Linked DNA regions of Homo sapiens: all the other regions are reported to be linked to region 3. Evidence: microRNA targets listed by miRTarBase, many of them from high-throughput screens and not tested one by one. Region 3 holds a microRNA gene; each other region holds the end of a gene's coding sequence.
Evidence for each region. The annotated mature microRNA hsa-miR-1307-3p reads ACUCGGCGUGGCGUCGGUCGUG and lies in region 3 at 3,074-3,095, shown strand. An mRNA with a match to its seed (bases 2 to 7 or 8) in the 3' UTR can be bound and repressed. Matches are read on the target gene's strand: a 7mer-m8 pairs with bases 2 to 8, a 7mer-A1 pairs with bases 2 to 7 and ends in A, and an 8mer does both.

Region 1 (5,150 bases), not on the chromosome of region 3:
CCATTCTTCTGCGACGGCGCGGACCTGGAGCTTCCGCGCGGTGGCTTCACTCTCCTGTAAAACGCTAGAGCGGCGAGTTGTTACCTGCGTCCTCTGACCTGAGAGCGAAGGGGAAAGCGGCGAGATGACTGACCGCTACACCATCCATAGCCAGCTGGAGCACCTGCAGTCCAAGTACATCGGCACGGGCCACGCCGACACCACCAAGTGGGAGTGGCTGGTGAACCAACACCGCGACTCGTACTGCTCCTACATGGGCCACTTCGACCTTCTCAACTACTTCGCCATTGCGGAGAATGAGAGCAAAGCGCGAGTCCGCTTCAACTTGATGGAAAAGATGCTTCAGCCTTGTGGACCGCCAGCCGACAAGCCCGAGGAGAACTGAGACTCTGCCTTACCACCGCAGTGCGGGGCACCTCTCCCAGCGTTTCTCCGGTTTGCCAATCCTCTTAAGTATTCCTGTCTCCAAAGGACCGGCTCTCCATGGCTCCTGCGCCTCGTGCTTTCCGCGTACAGAAGTGCTTGCCCGGGGAGTCCCGCCTGACCTGCCTTCATGTGGACCCTTAGAACAGCACTGGGAGACCAGCAGGACTCCTGAGAACTGTGCTGGTGGAGAGGTCCTAGAGCCGGCGAGCGTTTGAGAAGAGGGCATGGCGCTGGAGTGAGATGGGATTTGGCGTCTCGTTTTTGGCTAATTGATTGTCATTGGCTTTTTCCATAAAGTTTAGAAATCGTTCAGTCTCTTGGTGTGAACTTTCTGTGTTAGGGTGGAAGGCTCCGGAAAGAGCTGAGCGGGAAGTGGGTTTGGGTGAGGGAGCGCATGCCAGTGTCCATGGCCAGGCACTTAGATCCGCCGTGTCTACCTTTATAATTAATTCCCCGACTGCCACTTTTCCCAAGAGCGTTATTTTCAGGCCCACAATGCCTTCAGTATTGAAATTTGTGGTTATTGTATCCCATCTTCTTTTTCTCCTGTTTTAAAACTCTTTGCAGTCTTTGCTGTCATTGTCCTCCCTAGCCTCTTTAAAATGCATCCTTTTTTTTTTCTTGGGAATTTGTGGCCATGTCTCCAGAAATGACAAGCTGGCAAGCGAGTTCATCCATTCTACATTCAACAAATATTTGTTGAGCTCTATGTGACAGGCATTTTCCCGTGTTCTTGGGGCTTACATTATGCTGGTGGTGGAGAAAGGAGGTCAAACACTAGATGTAATAAGCAAATGTTAGAAGATGCTGCGGGGAGGGGAGAACAATGTATGTGGTGCGGGTGGGAGTAGCTGGTAGGGCTGTAATCTTAAATATGATGCACAAGTTACTGAGATGGTGACATTTGAGCAAAGACTTCAGGAAAATGAGGGAAATGGCCATGCGGAAAACTGGAGAAATTGCTTTCCATGAAGAGGGAACTGCCAGTGCAATGGTACTAACGCTGGGAGTATGTATGGTTTATTGGAGGAACTTCAAAGAGGCAAGCATGGCTGGAGGGAGTGAGTAAGGGGAAAAGTAGAGGGACAGGTAATGGAGGGGAAAACAGAGTAGAGTCTTGTAGGACAATATATGAACCTCTGAGGAGCCATTGGAAGGTTGTGGTTTTTTTTAATTTTAGTTTTTAAAAACACGAGATGGATCTTGATATGTTGGCCAGGTTGGTCTTGAACTCTTGGCCTCAAGCAGTCCTCCCACTTCAGCTTCCCAAAGTGCTACGATTACAGGTGTGAGCCACCACTGCAGACCATTGGAAGGTTTTTACGCAGAGAAGTCACGTGACCTGGCATAGCTTAGCTCAGTGGTGGCTTTGGAACTCCAGGCTGGAGTGCAGTGGCACGATCATGGCCCACTGCAGCCTCAACTTCCAAGGCTCAAGCAATCCTCCCACCTCAGCCTCCCAAGTAGTTGGTACTACAGGTACGTGCCACCATGCCCGGCTAATTTTTGCATTTCTTAGTTTTTTTGTAGAGATGAGGGTCTCATGTTTCCCGGGCTGCTCTTGAACTCCTGGCTCAAGCAATCCACCCACCTCAGCCTCCCAAAGTGCTGGGATTACAGGGGTGAGTCATTGCTCCTAACTTTTCGTTACACTAGAAAATTGTAGAAGACACCAAAGAGCCTCTGTTTATGTGGATTGTGGCTATTGATATTCACCACCATAGAAATGAAAACAAAAGTTTTAATTCATTGAAAAATAATGAAAATTCTCAGAAAGGTCAATGGTAAAAATAATGATAATAAAACCATTTCATGTTAACAAAAACTTTTTTTGTTTTATGAAAAATGGCAATTTACCAAGACATAATTTAGTGAGAAGAATGGCTTTTAAGAAAAACCGGTTTTTCAGAGGTCTTCTGTGTTTGGCTTAATAGAGGACAGCTTGATTCCCATATTTGCTTTTGCATTCAAACTGTTGGGATATGAAATTTTTGTCGAAGTATGAAAAAATCCACTTCTCATAAATATTTAGTATAGGAGCAATATTTAACTTTTTCAAATAGATGTACATATACTTCTTTGATATTATACTAAAACCCAACAAGTGGTAGTTTCTTAAAGGTTAGTTACAACATGGAATCTGAAACTGGTTTAATGAACTTTTTATTCTGTTCCATTAAAATTCATTCATGTATGTTGAGCTTTGAATGGATCTTTTACCCATACCTGATTTGGAACATCATGCATCAGTCATCTGAAAAGTAATGGGTTACTGAGTTATACAGACCTTCCAAATGTTGTTACATTCATTATACATATCAAAAATCACATTGAGTAATATCATCCCTGTCTCAGGAAGGTTTTATAGTATTGGGAAACTGAAAGACCTACTGTGAAGGTATAAGTTTTCCACAAGTTTAAGTTTTTACTTGATAGCTTGAACTTGATCAAGCTATCAAGCATGAGGTTGATAGCAAATATTATTGTTTTCCTTTAAGTGAAAGGCCCACTTGGTTCATTTTCAAGAAAATGTCTGCCAAATACATACCCAATACATACCCAAGTCTGAGTAACAAGATACAGTTTGTCATTTTTTTCTTGTAAATATGTGCCTTGAGAAAAAAAAAAAAAAGGCAGCCAATTCAATTTGCAACTCAAATAATAAAAAGTGTTTTTCCTTGAGAAAACTATTGTCCTTTGGTAGGCAGCAGAAATGCTTTATGCATATTATGAATTTCATCACACAGAATATTAAAAGACATCTTAAGGGCTAAGATTTCATAAAGTTAGCAATTTTTACTGCTTCATCAAGCACATTCTTAAGTGAAACTGAGGTTTTTTGTTTTTGTTTTTACTGAGGGTGCATGGCAATGAAGTATACAATGACTAGCAATACATTTTTGTGCCCCTCCATTGATTCATGCTAAGTGCTGGTAGTTTTATCACTATTGCTTTTGCACCATCTGTGCAAATGTTAATGGTAAGAAAGGCAAGTAAAATCTTACTTTTATGAAAATAGTTTTGGCTTCAGTTTCCCTGGGATTTCTTTCTTACCATTTTTACTGGAAAGAATGACTATAGGAGATTAAACTATGGTTGTTTACACTTGGGTATCTGGCAGATATTTTATCAAAAATGGATGAAATTGCCGGGCGTGGTGGCTTATGCCTGTAATCCCAGCACTTTGGGAGGCTGAGGCGGGTGGATCACAAGGTCAGGATATTGAGACCATCCTGGCTAACACAGTGAAACCCCATCTCTACTAAAAATACAAAAATTACCTGGGCGTAGCGGCGTGCACCTGTAGCCCCAGCTGCTGGGGAGGCTAAGGCAGGAGAATGGTGTCAACCCGGGAGGCGGAGCTTGCAGTGAGCCGAGATCGTGCCACTGCATTCCAGCCTGGGCGACAGAACGAGACTCCATCTCAAAAAAACAAAAACAAAAACAAAAAAAGAATGAAATGGGCCATCGCTTCAAGAAAAACAGTTGAACTGTGGTTTCAGATGATCCCTCTGGCTGCTGTGTTGAGAACAGACTGGGGTAATGTAAAAGAAAATAGATTGTAATAATTGGCAATTAAATAAAAATGTCAACACTAATTTTTTTTCCTCTTTAAAGAGTAGCAGAGTCAAACTAAGTCACCATCCTTACAAAACTTGATAAAGGTATACAAAGTGTCATTAGAGTGAGCTCCTGTCCCCAATTCAAGGCTGTAGCAGTAGAACAAGAGAGATGACAGCCTGCATTGGAGATAGAGAGGAAAGGACTGGATATATGGTATGGGATAGCATATGTAAAGAAATGAGTAACATGTACAGTAAGAATTTAGAAGGAAGTCAGTAACTTAAAGACCTCCATGAAGAGTGAGGTTTCACAAAGGCAAGGATTTTGGTCTTTTTTACAAACCAATATATCCTAAGTATCTAGAATGATGTCTAACACATCCCAGGTGTCCAATAAATCTTGAGTGTTGAATATCAAAGGACAGGGCTTAATCCAGGTGATATATTGGGCCCATGCTAATTCATGTTCTTAGGCAGTCTTTAACTTTACCATAATAGGTAATACCAAAGAAGAGCCATTTGAAAGCATGTTTCCTATAGTATTAATAACAGCTAACATATTGAGCATTTTTATGGTGTGCTAAGTGTTTTGTGTGATCTTTGGGAGGTACTGTCTTCATTTTGCAAATGAAACAGGTTCAGAAAAGTAATTTGCACAAGATCGCACAACTAGTAACCAGGTTTTTCTAGTTTCGAAGTACAGAGTCTTGTACTGTTGCCCAAGTAGGTCTAGTATACAAAAATAGTATTAGAATAATTTGAAATAAGTTGTCTCAGATTTTTTAAATGGAAATACTAAAAGTTTAGTAGATTATATTGAAAGAATATCAGACCAATATGAAAGATCTCATATAACTCTAAGTAAAAAATGTAATTTGAAATATATTGAATAAAGATTGAAGAAAAATAATCTTAGTAGGCAGCACAATTGTTTTGTGTGGAAACACATTTCAAGTATCTGAAAGTAAAAGTGCCGTCCAAATAAATTTAATTGAGCTATTCTGTTTTTGTTGTTCTCATCTGAGAGAATATTTGTGTCAAACACAGGAGGGCAGCAGATGATACTCAGATGGAAATTACTTTCAGAAAAAGATCTAAACTTGTAGATTCCTGATAACTTCGGAGAAAAATAAGCGGTTCCTATATTTATTTAGAGTGATG
Region 2 (5,152 bases), not on the chromosome of region 3:
CATCACCCTATTCTCAACAGGCCCAAGGTTTTCTTTACTAATTCTTTGTAGCCATTATAACAAAGCATCCTGATTACCGATACTGGCAAAACCAAACCAAAAGCAAACCACAATCAGCATCAGGTTGTTTTAAGTTCCATCTGTTGTCTGTTTTTAAGGGGAAGGAGGTGGTCTTAGGGCATTGCCCATATTTTTTTGAGAAATCATCGGTACATTTTTAAAAAATATGTTCATACTTTATCCAGCATTATCTAAGTATCTTATAATGGAAGAGCTTATTAGTTTTATAAATACCTATATTACCAATAACAGAAGAGCTGGAAATACCACCATAGAGATTTCCAATTTATAAAAATACCAAGTGAAACATGTCTTAAATAGATTGTTAGCCATCTTGACATCAACTTCAAAAGATCAGAAATTATCTCTCAGATTTCTTAATTTTTTTTTTTTTTTGAGATGAAGTCTTGCTTCGTCACCCAGGCTGGAGTTCAGTGGCGTGATCTCGGCTCATTGCAACCTCTGCCTCCCGGGTTCAAGCGATTCTCCTGCCTCAGCCTCCCCAGTAGCTGGGATTACAGGAATGAACCACCACGCCCAGCTAATTTTGCATTTTTAGTAGAGACTGGGTTTTACCATGTTGGCCAGGCTGGTCTCCAACTCCTGATCTCAGGTGATCTACCCACTTCAGCTCCCAAAGTGCTGGGATTACAAGCATGAGCCACCACACCTGGCCTAGATTTCTTGATTTCTTGCAATGAATTAGTATGGACTTACTATATGTGAACCTTTTTAAACATTTTTAACGCTGTTTTTATTTTCAAATTGCGTTTTTCTGTCTTTTAACATTAACAGTGGCCTCTTTTGAAAACTCTCTTGACCCTGCTGCCTCTTTAAGTCCTTTACTCAGTCAATTAACAAAAATTTGAGTACCTATTGTGTACCAGGCCTTTTTCTGAGTGACGGTAACAGTTTTGAAGAAAACTACCTAAATCCCTGTCCTTGTTTGTGGAGCTTGTATCTTAGTGGATGTAGACAAATATATAAATATGTCAAGTGAATCACTTGTCAGCCTCTTGGCTAAGAATAATTGTAAATACATCAGGTGGTGAAATATTTACATTGAGTGATATGAAGAAACGCAAAGCAGAACAACAGGTCAAGGAGTGACAATCTGGTTGGGGCCATGAATGGGAGTGACTGCTCTTTTATATAAGGTGGTCAGTAAAGTTCTTTGGACAAAGTGGCATTTGAACAGTCTTAAAGGATAGGAGAGGTATACATGGAACACTAGCATTCCAGACAGAGGGAACTGCAAATGCAAGAGATCTGAGGCAGGAACATGCTTGACTGCTCCAAGGAGGCCAGTGTGCCTGAGAAGAGTGAGTTGGACAGTGGTAAGAAATAAGGTCAGAAGGTCAGAGAAGCCATCTCTCCACATATACCCTCCTCATCCAGTCCATGACTGTACCCTCCCCAGTGTCTCTTGCATCATCTCTCAGCCCTGCATGATCTTAGTTCAGGCCTCAATCATCCTTGTTTTGTTTATCTGAGATTGTCTACTACAACACTTCCCAAATATAGGTGCTCAATATATGTTTGATAACTTTTTTTTTTTTTTTGAGACAGAGTTTTGCTCTTGTTGCCCAGGCTGGAGTGCAACCTCCGCCTCCTGGGTTCAAGCGATTCTCCTGCCTCAGCCTCCCAAGTAGCTGGGGTTACAGTCATGCGCCACCACGCCCAGCTAATTTTGTATTTTTAGTAGAGATGGGGTTTCTCCATGTTTGTCAGGCTGGTCTCAAACTCTCAACCTCAGGTGATCTGCCTGCCTCGGCCTCCCAAAGTGCTGGGATTACAGGCGTGAGCCACTGCGCCCAACCTGATAACATTTTTAATTACTTTTCCAGAATATGTTGTCTTGGCTGGCCCCTCAGTGAGCACCTAATGGAACGTGTATCCCTGAATTTCATTTCCTTTGGCATTACAACCTCTGGTATGAAACTTTGTGATAATAAATACAGTTACGTTCACACACAAATTTGACAGACTAGACCACTTTTTTATTACAGCTTAATTGGCACATGGTTCACTGAAGATACACTTCACTTTTACATAGGCTTGTAAATAGAAAAATACATTGATGCACAAAAAATATAGTACTTCAATACCAAACTTAAATGATTTCCAAAAAGAATACAGGTTATTTCAATAATTAAAGGTGGCTTTTGTGTGTGCACTATATCATGTATACACTTAATTGTATGTTTAAGGCCAGTGGAATCTATAGCTAATTACTCATTTGGTTCTTGAAAACTGAAACATGCAAACATTCTTATTTTTATGTTTAAAGACATTTAATGTGTTATTCTAACACAAATACACCATATAGAATATGCCCTGATATGTAGCTGTAAAATTATGTTGTACTGCACTGAAGTCTTATGGCAACTATATAAGGCACTGCTGTGTGATTATGACCCTGCTCTTTTTTTTTTTTTTTTTTTTTGAGACAGAGTCTCCTCTGTCGCCCAGGCTGGAGTGCAGTGGCGCAATCTCGGCTCACTGCAAGCTCCGCCTCCCAGGTTCACGCCATTCTCCTGCCTCAGCCTCCTGAGTAGCTGGGACTACAGGTGCCCACCACCACGCCCAGCCCATTTTTTTTTTTTTTTTTTTTTTAGTAGAGATGGGGTTTCACTGTGTTAGCCAGGATGGTCTCGATCTCCTGACCTCGTGATCCGCCCTCCTCGGCCTCCCAAAGTGCTGGGATTACAGGTGTGAGCCACCGCGCCTGGCCAACCCTGCTCTTGAAATGTCTAAATCTTTTCCTCACTAGCATATACAATTCAAATGCACAGGCCTCCATGACTTCTTTGGAATTTAAAAGAAGCCTTCATTTCAAGGATAGAAATATGTAAAATTTTACCAACCATGGATAAGTTTGTTATGGGAGTAGTGGAAGGACAGTGGAAAAAAAAATAGGTTTTTTCATGATACTTTTATTTTTCCTTTTTTAAAAATAAATTTAGGGGGTACAAGTACAGTTTAGATACATGAATATATTGTGTAGTCGTAAAGTCTGGGCTTCTAGTGTAACCATCACGCAAATATACTTGTATTTTTCTAATTACAGTTCTACCAAACATTTGCCACCACAAAATACAAGTATTTTTATTCTTTATTTAAATTATGGTGAGTGATATTTCTTCCTATATAGCCATTAAGATCTCTGGAAGTTTTGATCTACTTTATTCAAACCACTTTAATAAATAAGACTTTTCACCTAAATGAAATACCTTTGAATTTTATAAACAACTTCCATGAAACATATATTAAAACCACCTTTAATTTGGTATGAAGACACTTTGGCAATGCAGCGGAATAAATGATCTTGGCAAGACCCAGCAAGTACAGTAAATGCTCATGAGCTCTATGAAAAATATAGGCTACAGAATACTTCATTTTTCTTTTATTGAACTACAGTACAAATGTGACTGCTTCAATATGAACATCTATCTTCCACCAAATAGCAAACAGGCATCTTATGTAATTAAAAACTAATTATTTCAATTCCACCAATGGAAAAGCAAAACAAGTTGCAAATATCAACAATACAGAGCCTGCTGGTAAAGATAGAGATGAGTAAGTTATAAGCTAATAAAGCTGCAGCCTGAGGATGCCAGATCAACATTATAAATATGAAGAAAAAGAAACTAAATATTTACTCATCGCAAATAACTCGGCATAAGCACCAGCTATGTTCAGGTGCGGCCAGCACATAGGCCAAGTATAAATGTACAATCACAGTGAACTAAAGCCATAAAATCTAGTTCCCTGACCCTTCAATCAACCATTCAGAGCAATGGGAATATAGCGGGGAGACAGAAGTCCCACTTTGGTTGCTCATATTACATTAAGCCAGCCTGCCCCACCCCAATCCCCTTCCCACCAATAAAAAAGTCACCGTGAGTGTATAATTGGTCAATCCAGTTTATCCAAGGTCTATAGATATAGCCATGATTTGTCCTATATTCATGTTAAATAGAATGCTTACATAAAATTAATACTCAAAGACATTGAGCTGATGTGCATGTATATTCTTATTTAACATTTAAGTGGCTTTAATGGTATTTTAGAATGTCACCTATGGCATGAGTCTTCAAATCTGGATTGAAGACTGTGGCGGTTTTATAACTGCATGTAAGATCTTAAATGTAAGACTCTGGGCCTACCTACATTAAGGCAGGTGACAGTACCCTCATTCATTCTACATAATAAATACACTCTTCTGTGACTGCAAAATTCTGAATCCTTGAATGATTTACTATAATAGGCTAAGGTTGTATAAGGCACTTTTGGCTCTGAAATATTTCTCCTAACTCTCAGGCTGAATCTTAAAGAAATATTTACAAAGCTGCAACAAATTAATTTTAGAACCGGATGCTTTATTCGTAGGTCTAATGGGGATGGTGAGAAGCAATTTGTACACAATGCCCATTAATCTCTCACTGTGCCATGTATCAATCATAGAGAAGATCCCAGGCATGGGCCACCTGAACTACTATGTCGCTTACTTGACTTCTCAACAGCCACATGCCCCTTTCTCCTTTTCTTCACTTAACTGATCCGTAGAGGCATGACCATTTGATCGCACCACTCCTTCAGGAATCCAGGACTTGTCCACACACCGTTCCATTCGCTTCATTATCAGGTCCAGAAGCATCTCAATTGCTTGGCTTATGTTTGTCCCATTGGCAGCACTAGTTTCAAAGTAGGGGATTCTGGAAGACAGAGACAACTGAGGTAACAACATGTGGAGGGAAAGGAGAGTGACCTTTGCTCTTGATAATTCAAATTAGAGAATCGATAGAATACAAATATACAAGATGACAAACATTTTACCACCCCAGAGTACATTAAAAAGTTAAAAAGACAATAAAATACTCACACTGCATTTCCAGTAGATATGCAAAACTGGAAATTTTAGACTCTTCAAAATATCAATTTTTGGCTGGGCGCAGTGGCTCACACCTCCCAGCACTCTGGGAGGCTCAGGTGGGCAGATCACCTGAGGTCAGGAGTTTAAGACCAGCCTGGCCAACATGCGGAAACCCCATCTCTACAAAAAATACAAAAATTAGCCAGGAATGGTGGC
Region 3 (5,140 bases):
AGTTTGCTTTGGCAAGTCAGAGACTTAAGCAGGGAAAGCGAGAGAACAGTAAGCAAGAAAAATATACTGCAGGCTATAGATTGGACATGAAGAGAGACAGTATTGAAGGCAAGTAAATTCGGTAGAAGGATTCAAATGCACTGTTTCCTGTTATCTCAGTGACAGAAAAAAAAAAAAAAAAAAAGGATTCAAATGCAGTACAGCAGAGAAACCATGAGAACCAGAACTGGGTATAAGTGAAAACAGAAGACAGGAGAGGTTAGTTCTGACAGACACTTGGTAATAAGACTCTACAAGGGCTTTAGACTAAAGAAGTGATGACCGGGTGGGGCCAAGGATATGGAATCAGGGATGGGTATATGATTCATAGAAACAGGAAAGTTTGGGGGGTCTAGTTTGCTGATAATTTCACCCTTAATTTCCTTTCAAGCAAGGGGAAACTGAGGCTCTGAAAAGTAAGGCGATCCAGGGGCACAGAAGATACTTAGGCTACTTTCCGAACACAAAGCCTGGGGTTACAGGGGCTGCTACAACAGAGCCGGCTTCGAAGCGGGGCTAAGGTGGCCGAACCACACTCATCTAGCGTGTGCCTGGCAGGGAACCAGGCCTGGGACAGACCTGACAGCCATGAGGTTTCCTCCTTTTTCGCCTCTGCCTTTACTCACCAGCGCCACGGCGTCTGCACCCAGCTACCACTAACCTCGCGCCGCGGTACTCACACACGCGGAGACCAGGATACCCACAGTCCAGTGCAATTCTTCCGGAAGTGTGGGCGGGCTCAACACCCTACTTCCGTTGCTGTGTTGCGGAGGTGACCTAGAGACAGGAATCGGAAGGGCGGGATTTGGAGCCATAGCCAATCGTCGCATTAGGCCGAATCGCGGGGGCCGGCTAAACGCGTGCGGGGGAGGTGGCTTCTTCCGGCCGGGCCGAGAGGTGGTTACATTCGTTGAAGGACACCAGCTGCGGAATTTGCGGCTTTGGCAGGTGGGTGAAGAGGGGAGTCCGGGCTTGGACCTGGCGCCTGCACGTTGCAGGACCGCCCGCCGTTTCTGGCCGAGGAGCAACTCGAGTTCTTAGCTTTGGAGGAGAGAAACGGTGGGGAATGGGAAAGGAGCTAGAAAAAACGAGGGGCGCAAGGGGGCGGCCAGCGGGTGAGAAGCCTCGAGGTGAGGCGGATAGGTGCGCCCAAGGGCTCCCACAGTTTCCGAAGACCCTTAGATTGCATTCGCCAGTGGAGAAAAATGAGGCCCTCCGCGAAGCGTCCCTCGAGGTCACCCAGTGACGTAATATTGGACGAGGACTAGGGCTTCTGATCCCCATCACCGGCCGAATTAACCTCTTTTCTTCTGTATGTCCATAGCTGTTTGTTCCCACCGAGCTGTGCTTTAGGAAGCTGGCCAGCCGGGCCTCCTTTAGGTGCGCTGCAGCCTTTTTCAAAGCGAGTGAATGTGGCCCGGCCCCTACAGTTCGCCAGGCCCGCTGTAAAAGGGTTAGATTTCAGTCTATAGACGATCAGTGGGAAGGCCTTTCCTAGGAGGTAACCAGAACAGAGAGCTGTAAACTCCGTGAATGCAAGAGGCTGCTTCTGTTACCTGAGTGGTTCTCACTCATCTTTGCCTTCCTTACCTCGTGATCTCACCATTCCAGGTAGGTGTTAAGTTAGAAAGGAAAATAGCAATATCGAGGAACAGAGAAAGTAACAAGAGCTACTGGTCACTTTGGACCTTTAATAAAGTGCCCATCTCACAGGTGGAGAGAGGCACGGAAGGATTAGTTACATTTAAGAGCAGTTAGTGGCCGGGCGCGGTGGCTCACGCCTGTAATCCCAGCACTTTGGGAGGCCGAGGCGGGTAGATCACCTGAGGTCCAGAGTTCGAGACCAGCCTGAGTAGTATGGTGAAACCCCGTCCCTACCAACAATACAAAAATTAGCCGGGCGTGGTGGCGCGCGCCTGTAGTTCCAGCTACTCGGGAGGCTGAGGCAGGAGAACCGCTTGACCCCGGGAAGCGGAGATTGCAGTGAGCTGAGATCGCGCCACTGCACTCCAGCCTGGACGACAGAGCGAGACCTTGTCTCAAGAAGGGCAGTTAGCAACTTAATTAAAACATACCACCGTTTAACAACATTAAATCACAACTAGGAGTCTTACAAAGGGCACTGTAAACACAAGGGTTCCTTTATCTTTGCCCTAAAGTAACCTGCACCGTGCTGAAGAGTGCAGAACCAAATTTTTCGACCTTACTCCATTATCTCACCAGCAACAATCCCGTTCCCCATTTGGCCCTCCATTTGAGCCTCTCAAGAGTCCTCCTCCTTTAAGACCCAGACTAACTTGAGTGATTGATTTCAGTTCTTGAACCATGCACTTCCCTGCAATCAGAATTAGTCTTCTGTGGGATATCACAAAACATCAGCCTTCCTCCCATATTGTGTGTAAATTAAAGGGAAATTTAAAGCGCTGTAGTATTGTTGGGCATATCCTCCTAAAAAGTTTAGTTAGATGTAATGTAGTGGAGGTTTTCGTTAATGGTCAAAGTGAAGCCCTTATTTTCTGTAGCGTTTCTCCTAAAAACCTACTTCAAACCCTAAGAAGTGAATCCAAAAATGTATCATGAAATGAATGGAGCTGGTGGGGGGGCGGGGGGCGGGGGGAAGTATGTCTTTAGTAAGTTTAGTAAAGTGGAACAGTTGATAGCTACATTATAAAGTTGCTTTTATCGCTTCTGTTGGCTAAGATCAAGTGTATAAAGTTATTTTTAATGGAGATTTTCCTACTTGGGCTAGACTGGCCAAGGTCTCTGAAGAGGCCTAAGGAAGTTTGGATTTCCTTCATTGCTCCAAGAACCTTCTTGAAACTTGAAAATTAAGGTCATTTTTCTCAAATTTTCATTGCCAATTCTTTACACAAGAATGCCTCTGAAAGCCTTTGAATGGGGGAGTTCCAGTTTCCATAGTAATGACTCCCTGACAGATATCTCCCTCTTCCATTTCATCAAGACCCAGCTGAGTCACTGTCACTGCCTACCAATCTCGACCGGACCTCGACCGGCTCGTCTGTGTTGCCAATCGACTCGGCGTGGCGTCGGTCGTGGTAGATAGGCGGTCATGCATACGAATTTTCAGCTCTTGTTCTGGTGACCTTTTGAATACGTCTTGTCTATAAAAGAAATTCATGCCTTTGTAAAATACACAGGTACTATAGATTAAGCTGCCTTTGCTATATATTCTTCCAGAGTTTTTTTTAATACACTTACTATTTTTCTATTTCATTTACTGCAGTATTTTTCAAACTTTAGCATGCTTTAGAATTATCTAGAAGCCTTATTAAAATAGATTCCTGGACCCAGAGTTTCTGATTCAATAGGTAGGGCCTAAGAATTTGCACTAACAAGTTTCCAGTGATGCTAATGCTGCTGGTCTAGGGACAAGACCCAGAACCATTGACGTGCTTTATAAAATCCAGAAATAAGATTTTTTCTTACAAAATTGAACGTTACTTGGGACATCTTCCCATGTCAGTACACAAAGATCTGTGCCTGTTGTGTGTCGTTTAATGGAAACCATCATTTTTTAATCAGTCTTCTATAGATGGACTTTTAAGATTTTCATAAACAGTATTTCATTGACCATCTTTGAACCACACAATGTGTTTCCACTTTGTAATATTTCAATAAGGGTAAATTCCTGGAGAAAAACACCAGCTAGATGAAAGGGTATACTCATTTTATAATTCGATAAGATACTGCCAACTTGCACTTTCTGAAGGTTGTACCAGTTTATTTATTTTTTATTTATTTATTTTTTTTTTTTTTGAGACGGCGTCTCGCTCTGTCGCCCAGGCTGGAGTGCAGTGGCGCAATCTAGGCTCACTGCAAGCTCCGCCTCCCAGGTTCATGCCATTCTCCTGCCTCAGCCTCCCGAGTAGCTGGGACTACAGGCGCCCACCACCACGCCCGGCTAATTTTTTGTATTTTTAGTAGAGACAGGGTTTCACCGTGTTAGCCAGGATGGTCTCGATCTCCTGACCTCGCATCCACCCGCCTTGGCCTCCCAAAGTGCTGGGATTACAGGCATGAGCCACCGTGCCAGGCTGGTTTTACCAGTTTATACTCCAAGCAACAGAGAGAGAATTCTTAGTTTTCTCACATACTTAATACTACTACTTACCATAATTTTATTTTTGCTTGTTTGATGATTAAATATTGATCTCATTTTACATTTCTTTGACTAATAGGTTTTATGTTTTTTTTGGTTTTTGGCTTTTTTTCTTAATATTTTCCCTTCCCTGAGATGACTTAAATATTTCCCCATGTTTTCTTCCAGGACTTTTTGGTTTCACTATTTACATTTAAATCTTTTATCTATTTTGGTGGTGGTGCAAGGATTCCAGCTTCCTTACTACCACCAGTAGCTATTATTAACTCCATTTAATAAATTATCCCTTCTCCCTTCTCCCATGGAGGTCCTAAATTACTTATAACAAGAAAAATTGTATAAGTAGGGGTTGTAATTGAGCTGTTTAGTTGATGGTCACCCGTTGAATGTTTGAAAAATACCAGCTCCAATTTTTGAGTAGCCTTAAAATGGATTAATTCAATGGACTGTGGTGTGATGGAGCCAGGAATGAAAATATTAAGCTGTATTGGGTCAGAGAATGAACTTAGCAGGGGCTATTGTGTGATTTGATGTATTCTGAGGTGTTCATGAAATAGCGATCAAGGTAAAATCCTACTTCCAAAAGCTTTTCTTTCAGGAAGGCTTTTTCCACCATCTTTGCTACTACTGTGTTGGGTGAGATATAGATAAAAATTTACAGTATTTATATGCAGTGACCTTGAGTTTTTAGACTAAAACAAGACAAAATTTATTTACTTTTAAATTACATCCAAACCAATTTAATGTTGCTTTCTTTCTTTTTTTAAAAGATTGAAATCATGGCAGGTCCAGAAAGTGATGCGCAATACCAGTTCACTGGTATTAAAAAATATTTCAACTCTTATACTCTCACAGGTAGAATGAACGTAAGTATTGATAACTTTAAGCAGTTATATTTTAAAATAATATAGATGGAACAACAAGTCTTGTTTACTTTTTTCTTTCTTTCTCAGTGTGTACTGGCCACATATGGAAGCATTG
Region 4 (5,152 bases), not on the chromosome of region 3:
AGTGCCTTCCCGCCCCGCCGAGCTAGGCCAGCAGGAGCTTCTGCGGAAAGCGGGGACCCTCCAGGATGACGTCCGCGATGGCGTGGCCCCAAACGGCTCTGCCCAGCAGTTGCCGCAGACCATCATCATCGGCGTGCGCAAGGGCGGCACGCGCGCACTGCTGGAGATGCTCAGCCTGCACCCCGACGTGGCGGCCGCGGAGAACGAGGTCCACTTCTTCGACTGGGAGGAGCATTACAGCCACGGCTTGGGCTGGTACCTCAGCCAGATGCCCTTCTCCTGGCCACACCAGCTCACAGTGGAGAAGACCCCCGCGTATTTCACGTCGCCCAAAGTGCCTGAGCGAGTCTACAGCATGAACCCGTCCATCCGGCTGCTGCTCATCCTGCGAGACCCGTCGGAGCGCGTGCTATCTGACTACACCCAAGTGTTCTACAACCACATGCAGAAGCACAAGCCCTACCCGTCCATCGAGGAGTTCCTGGTGCGCGATGGCAGGCTCAATGTGGACTACAAGGCCCTCAACCGCAGCCTCTACCACGTGCACATGCAGAACTGGCTGCGCTTTTTCCCGCTGCGCCACATCCACATTGTGGACGGCGACCGCCTCATCAGGGACCCCTTCCCTGAGATCCAAAAGGTCGAGAGGTTCCTAAAGCTGTCGCCGCAGATCAATGCTTCGAACTTCTACTTTAACAAAACCAAGGGCTTTTACTGCCTGCGGGACAGCGGCCGGGACCGCTGCTTACATGAGTCCAAAGGCCGGGCGCACCCCCAAGTCGATCCCAAACTACTCAATAAACTGCACGAATATTTTCATGAGCCAAATAAGAAGTTCTTCGAGCTTGTTGGCAGAACATTTGACTGGCACTGATTTGCAATAAGCTAAGCTCAGAAACTTTCCTACTGTAAGTTCTGGTGTACATCTGAGGGGAAAAAGAATTTTAAAAAAGCATTTAAGGTATAATTTATTTGTAAAATCCATAAAGTACTTCTGTACAGTATTAGATTCACAATTGCCATATATACTAGTTATATTTTTCTACTTGTTAAATGGAGGGCATTTTGTATTGTTTTTCATGGTTGTTAACATTGTGTAATATGTCTCTATATGAAGGAACTAAACTATTTCACTGAAAAAAAAAAAAAGATTTTTTCTGGAGACGCTATGTTTTTTTGAATATAATTAACTTGCCCCCAACTCAAAATAGCTGTCTGTGTTGCAATCATTGCAAAATCTAAATTCTTTTGTTACTTAAAAAAACATGTTTTTCATGGCTATTACAATCCTCTCTCTCCCCTCTCCTTTCTGCATTGCTCTTTTTAATTTTTAATGTCTCATTGTGATCATCAGATTTATTTTTACTTGGATTGTAAGATTTATCTCCTCGGCGATTCCTTGTCATTTTTGGAGGTCACAGTTTTACTCATTCCCATGTGTAAACTTCAAGTAAACAAAGCAATATTCAGGATGGAGAAGCAGTTAGTGACTGGCTAGAGGTCTCTTGGGATCCATCTTGACCTCAAAGAATATTTGCACATGCTTCTGATCTCAGCAGTTATAATAAAGAGGATTAAACCCTTGGCCTTCAGAATGATCTTGGACCTGGATACTTTGCCCCAGGTGGCAGCTGGCCTCCAGAAAGCCAATTAGAATAGAAAAGAGAAACTGCGAAATCTATGCGTGTCTTCATCCTGTCGGTTCTGTGAAAGGCTGACTAAAAGGGTAGTAGTCTTTTGCTTAGTCTGAAAGTCTGCTTACTTCCTGAAAGACACATTGGCATTATAGACATATATTCCATATGCACTGAGACATAAATATGTGTATGTTTCAAAATCAACTCTAAATTTGGAGTCCTGAATGTGAAAGAAAAAGTAAGTTCCCAAGTGTTGAAGTTAAAAAGAGAAAAGGGCAGAGTTGAAGGTAGCACCTAAGAGAACCACTGTACCTGCCCCCAGAGGAGTGGCTGGAGTTCAGTTTTACTTCTGCCCCTGAGCAGCCAGCTTGTTGGAGATGGTCACATAAACCCTTCTTATCCTCAGTTTTTTCATGCATTCTTCATGCAGTCAGCCTTTTACAGAATTAAACCCATTGGATTTTAATAAAAATAAAACATTCATTACAGTAAAAGAGAAAATACAAACAAGCAAAATAAACCGGCTTCCTGACATGGTTTATACCGCAGGAAAATGACAGAAATGGACGTTATTAATCATCTCCTACACTTAAGAACTCATTGAAATTTCTCCAAGCAACCCCAGGATGCAGATATTATTATGGAAATTTCAAAGAGGAGGAATTAGGCCCAGAGAACATGAGAAACTTGCCCAAGGTCACATTGACTATAAACTCAGGCTTAGAGGCTACTCAGAGCCAAAGCACAGGTTATTTATGTATTTAGTTTTTACCCAACTCTTTCTGAACTCAAAAGGAAAAGCCCAGACTCAGAGCCAGTTCTTCCTGACCTGACTTAACATTTCTTCCCAGGTGCCAAATATCTTCCATCCTAAGAGGTGTGTCCCAGATACAGGAAGGGCAAGAAGAAGCCTGCATTTTTCTCAGCAGTGTTATCAGGGAAGTGAGTCACCTTGGTACGTTTCAGCAGCTCCAGCCTGACCTGACCTTAGCATGGCCTATGCCCCACCCCATATCATGAACAGAGAGCAGAGAGGATGCCTTCCTCTTTAGAATCCATTGAAGTTGTCATTAAGCCATCATCTCCCCCAGAGGAAGTAGCAGAAATATTTACAGCAGGCCCCTGGTGGACATGGTACTTTTCAATAGGCAGAGAGCCTCCCTCTGCAGCACATCGTTGGATCTTGCTTTTACCATACTCCTTGAAGAGCTGAAGAAATAAGAGGGCCCAGCAAGGTTAAGTCAAGTTTCCAAGCCTGTTCAGGAATATGGTGACTGAAAGGAAACTGCAATGAGAGTCTCTGACTGAAGAAGATGCTCTTTGCAAACTGCCTGTAAATTCCTGTCCCCTGACAGGGATGGTCTGGTAGAAGCATGAACTGTGGATGCAAGAGGCAGCGGGGAGGAGTGGAGGAAGACAGGACCAGCACATGGAATATAATCTAGCTGCTGGGACTGGCATAGTCGATGGAGGCGGTGGTCCAGTGTAAAATGATCAGTGAATGTAAATTCAATATGTTTTCATTTGGGGGTGCAGAGTCGTGGCTAAAGGAATGTTCAAATGAGTCTACCATGAGCAAGGGATCAGAGGTCCTAGTGGCACTATCTGTTCATTCATTTTTGGTACAACCCCAGCCAGTCATTGAGAAGGTACACTGTGTAAGAAACCATCACTCCAGACTTACCCAAGGTATTTATTGCTAGATCTCACCAAGCACTGTCAAATTCAAAGGAGGCCCTGTAGTAGACCCTGGGCTGTCCTTACAGGGCCAAAATGCAGTGACTCAGGAGCCTAATAGCACCCGGTCCCTCCAAAACATGCCTTCTACCAATTCCATTAACAGAGACAGGTGTCAGTGGAAGGGGTGGGTCTCCTGTCCAGACCACCCCGGCCCGGGAGCAGCCTGGGGGATCTAGGTGGGTCCTTCCAGAGAGGCAAGTGAGAACAACTGAACCAAGCCTCAGCTATTAGATTTGGAATATTCACACACTTGACACTCCAGAGTCAGAACAGCCCCTTCCCTTTCCCTTCCTCCTGGAATCAGATAGGGTTGAAATCCTTTTAACACCATTTGGTTATCAGCTCACAACCTGAAGGTTTGCAAGTTTAGGAAAAGTGACATGCCTCTGAGCACAGGGTGCTTTACTCCTTCTGTGCTTGGAGGCTTACCCAACTGAAAGGAGATGGAGGGCAGGAGAGGCCGATGCCTAGCGTGCCTGCTGCTTACAGGGGTGGTGTCACAGGTCACCATTATTCATTAAAATTTTACTTTTTTGATCCCCTACCACATGCTCAACATGGTATTGAGTCCTCAAGAATATAAAAAGAAAATACAACAGGAACCAGTAGTCATTAACTGTTTGTTCTGGACTTTAATAAAAGTACAGAGGGTCTTGGAGTACAAAGGCAAAGACATTTAGCTGTGTATAGAATGGGTGGGGGAATGTGTTCCATGGTTTGGCATTCAGTTCAGCAACATTCCTGAGAGAAATCAACTAGCCCCCTTATAGAGAAGAGGAAACTGAGATTTAAAAAGTGGTCCTGGCCGGGTGTAGTGGCTCACGCCTGTAATCCCAGCACTTTGGGAGGCCAAGACAGGTGAATCACGAGGTCAGGAGTTCAAGACCAGCCTGACCAACATGGTGAAACCCCATCTCTACTAAAAATACAAAAATGTGCCAGGCATGGTGGCGAGTGCCTGTAATCCCAGCTACTCAGGACACTGAGGCAAGAGAACCACTTGAACCTGGCAGGTGGAGGTTGCAGGGGGCCGAGATGATGCCACTGCACTCCAGCCTGGGCAACAGAGCAAGACTCCATCTCAAAAAAAAAAAAAAAAAAAAAAGATAAATTAATAATAAAAAAATAAAAAAGTAATCCTGACTTCAAGTCATTTTTTTCAGAAGAAAGGATTCTTGCTCACTCCAGGGAAATAGTCCAGAAATGGAAAATGTTGACATCACAAATCACAAAAGAAGGTGAAAAATATCAGAGACCCTCTCCAGAATGTCATTTCTCAGAAATATTAAGAAATAGAGAATCTTCCCAGAGGTCGCATGTCAGGGCAGGTCACTTAACTTGTGGGCCACAGAGACCCTGACCTTCCTGTGGGAAGGCTTCATGGAGGAATTGCCATAAAGCTGGGGCACGCACGAATGGCAGTAGTGTCACCAGAGCAGGGCATTCTGAACAAGGGAAGCTTGAGACATGAAGACAGTGGTCACGGGGAGAGGCTGGGGGTAGAGGGTAGAGGTAGGCAAGAGATTTGTCTGAGTGGCATGTCAAATGTGTTAAACTCAATGAGAAGCTACTGCTTTCCAAGGCTGGAGTGTTGGAAGCTTACTTAGCAGGCACCCATGTGAATTTGGCTCCTGTGCAGGTGTATCTGTTGCATAAAAATAGCTATCATTTGTTGCACACCTGCCATGTGCTTGGTATTTTAAATATATTGCTTCTAACCTATATAACAACCCTAGGAAGTAGAAAATGGGCTACTAATTTTACAGAAAAATAAA

Region 1: the mRNA of SF3B5 is a reported target of hsa-miR-1307-3p. The part of its 3' UTR that is shown has no 7-base or 8-base seed match.
Region 2: miRTarBase lists RAB27A as a target of hsa-miR-1307-3p. Seed matches in the 3' UTR shown: 7mer-A1 at 2,553-2,559.
Region 4: the mRNA of HS3ST1 is a reported target of hsa-miR-1307-3p. Seed matches in the 3' UTR shown: 7mer-A1 at 4,407-4,413.

What each region holds. Positions count from the first base shown.
Region 1 is chr6:144,090,472-144,095,621 of GRCh38, reverse strand. SF3B5 (splicing factor 3b subunit 5) reads left to right here and starts at 49. Exons shown (of 1, transcript NM_031287.3): 1 at 49-738. The coding sequence starts at 125. The coding sequence ends at 385. RefSeq lists an enhancer at 1-299.
Region 2 is chr15:55,200,928-55,206,079 of GRCh38, forward strand. It overlaps RAB27A (RAB27A, member RAS oncogene family), which reads right to left. Exons shown (of 7, transcript NM_183235.3): 7 at 2,039-4,778. The coding sequence ends at 4,580. Among named protein-coding and RNA genes, the nearest start is that of RSL24D1, 6.6 kb to the left of the region's middle.
Region 3 is chr10:103,392,256-103,397,395 of GRCh38, reverse strand. MIR1307 (microRNA 1307) reads left to right here and starts at 2,995; the gene lies at 2,995-3,143. ATP5MK (ATP synthase membrane subunit k) reads left to right here and starts at 921. Exons shown (of 5, transcript NM_001206427.2): 1 at 921-987; 2 at 1,364-1,650; 3 at 4,930-5,025; 4 at 5,113-5,140. The coding sequence starts at 4,939. PDCD11 (programmed cell death 11) reads right to left here and starts at 770. Exons shown (of 36, transcript NM_014976.2): 1 at 666-770. RefSeq lists enhancers at 1-286, 944-1,193, 1,344-1,433, 826-1,658.
Region 4 is chr4:11,394,804-11,399,955 of GRCh38, reverse strand. It overlaps HS3ST1 (heparan sulfate-glucosamine 3-sulfotransferase 1), which reads left to right. Exons shown (of 2, transcript NM_005114.4): 2 at 1-5,152. The coding sequence ends at 874. Among named protein-coding and RNA genes, the nearest start is that of MIR572, 29 kb to the right of the region's middle. RefSeq lists an enhancer at 1,972-3,171.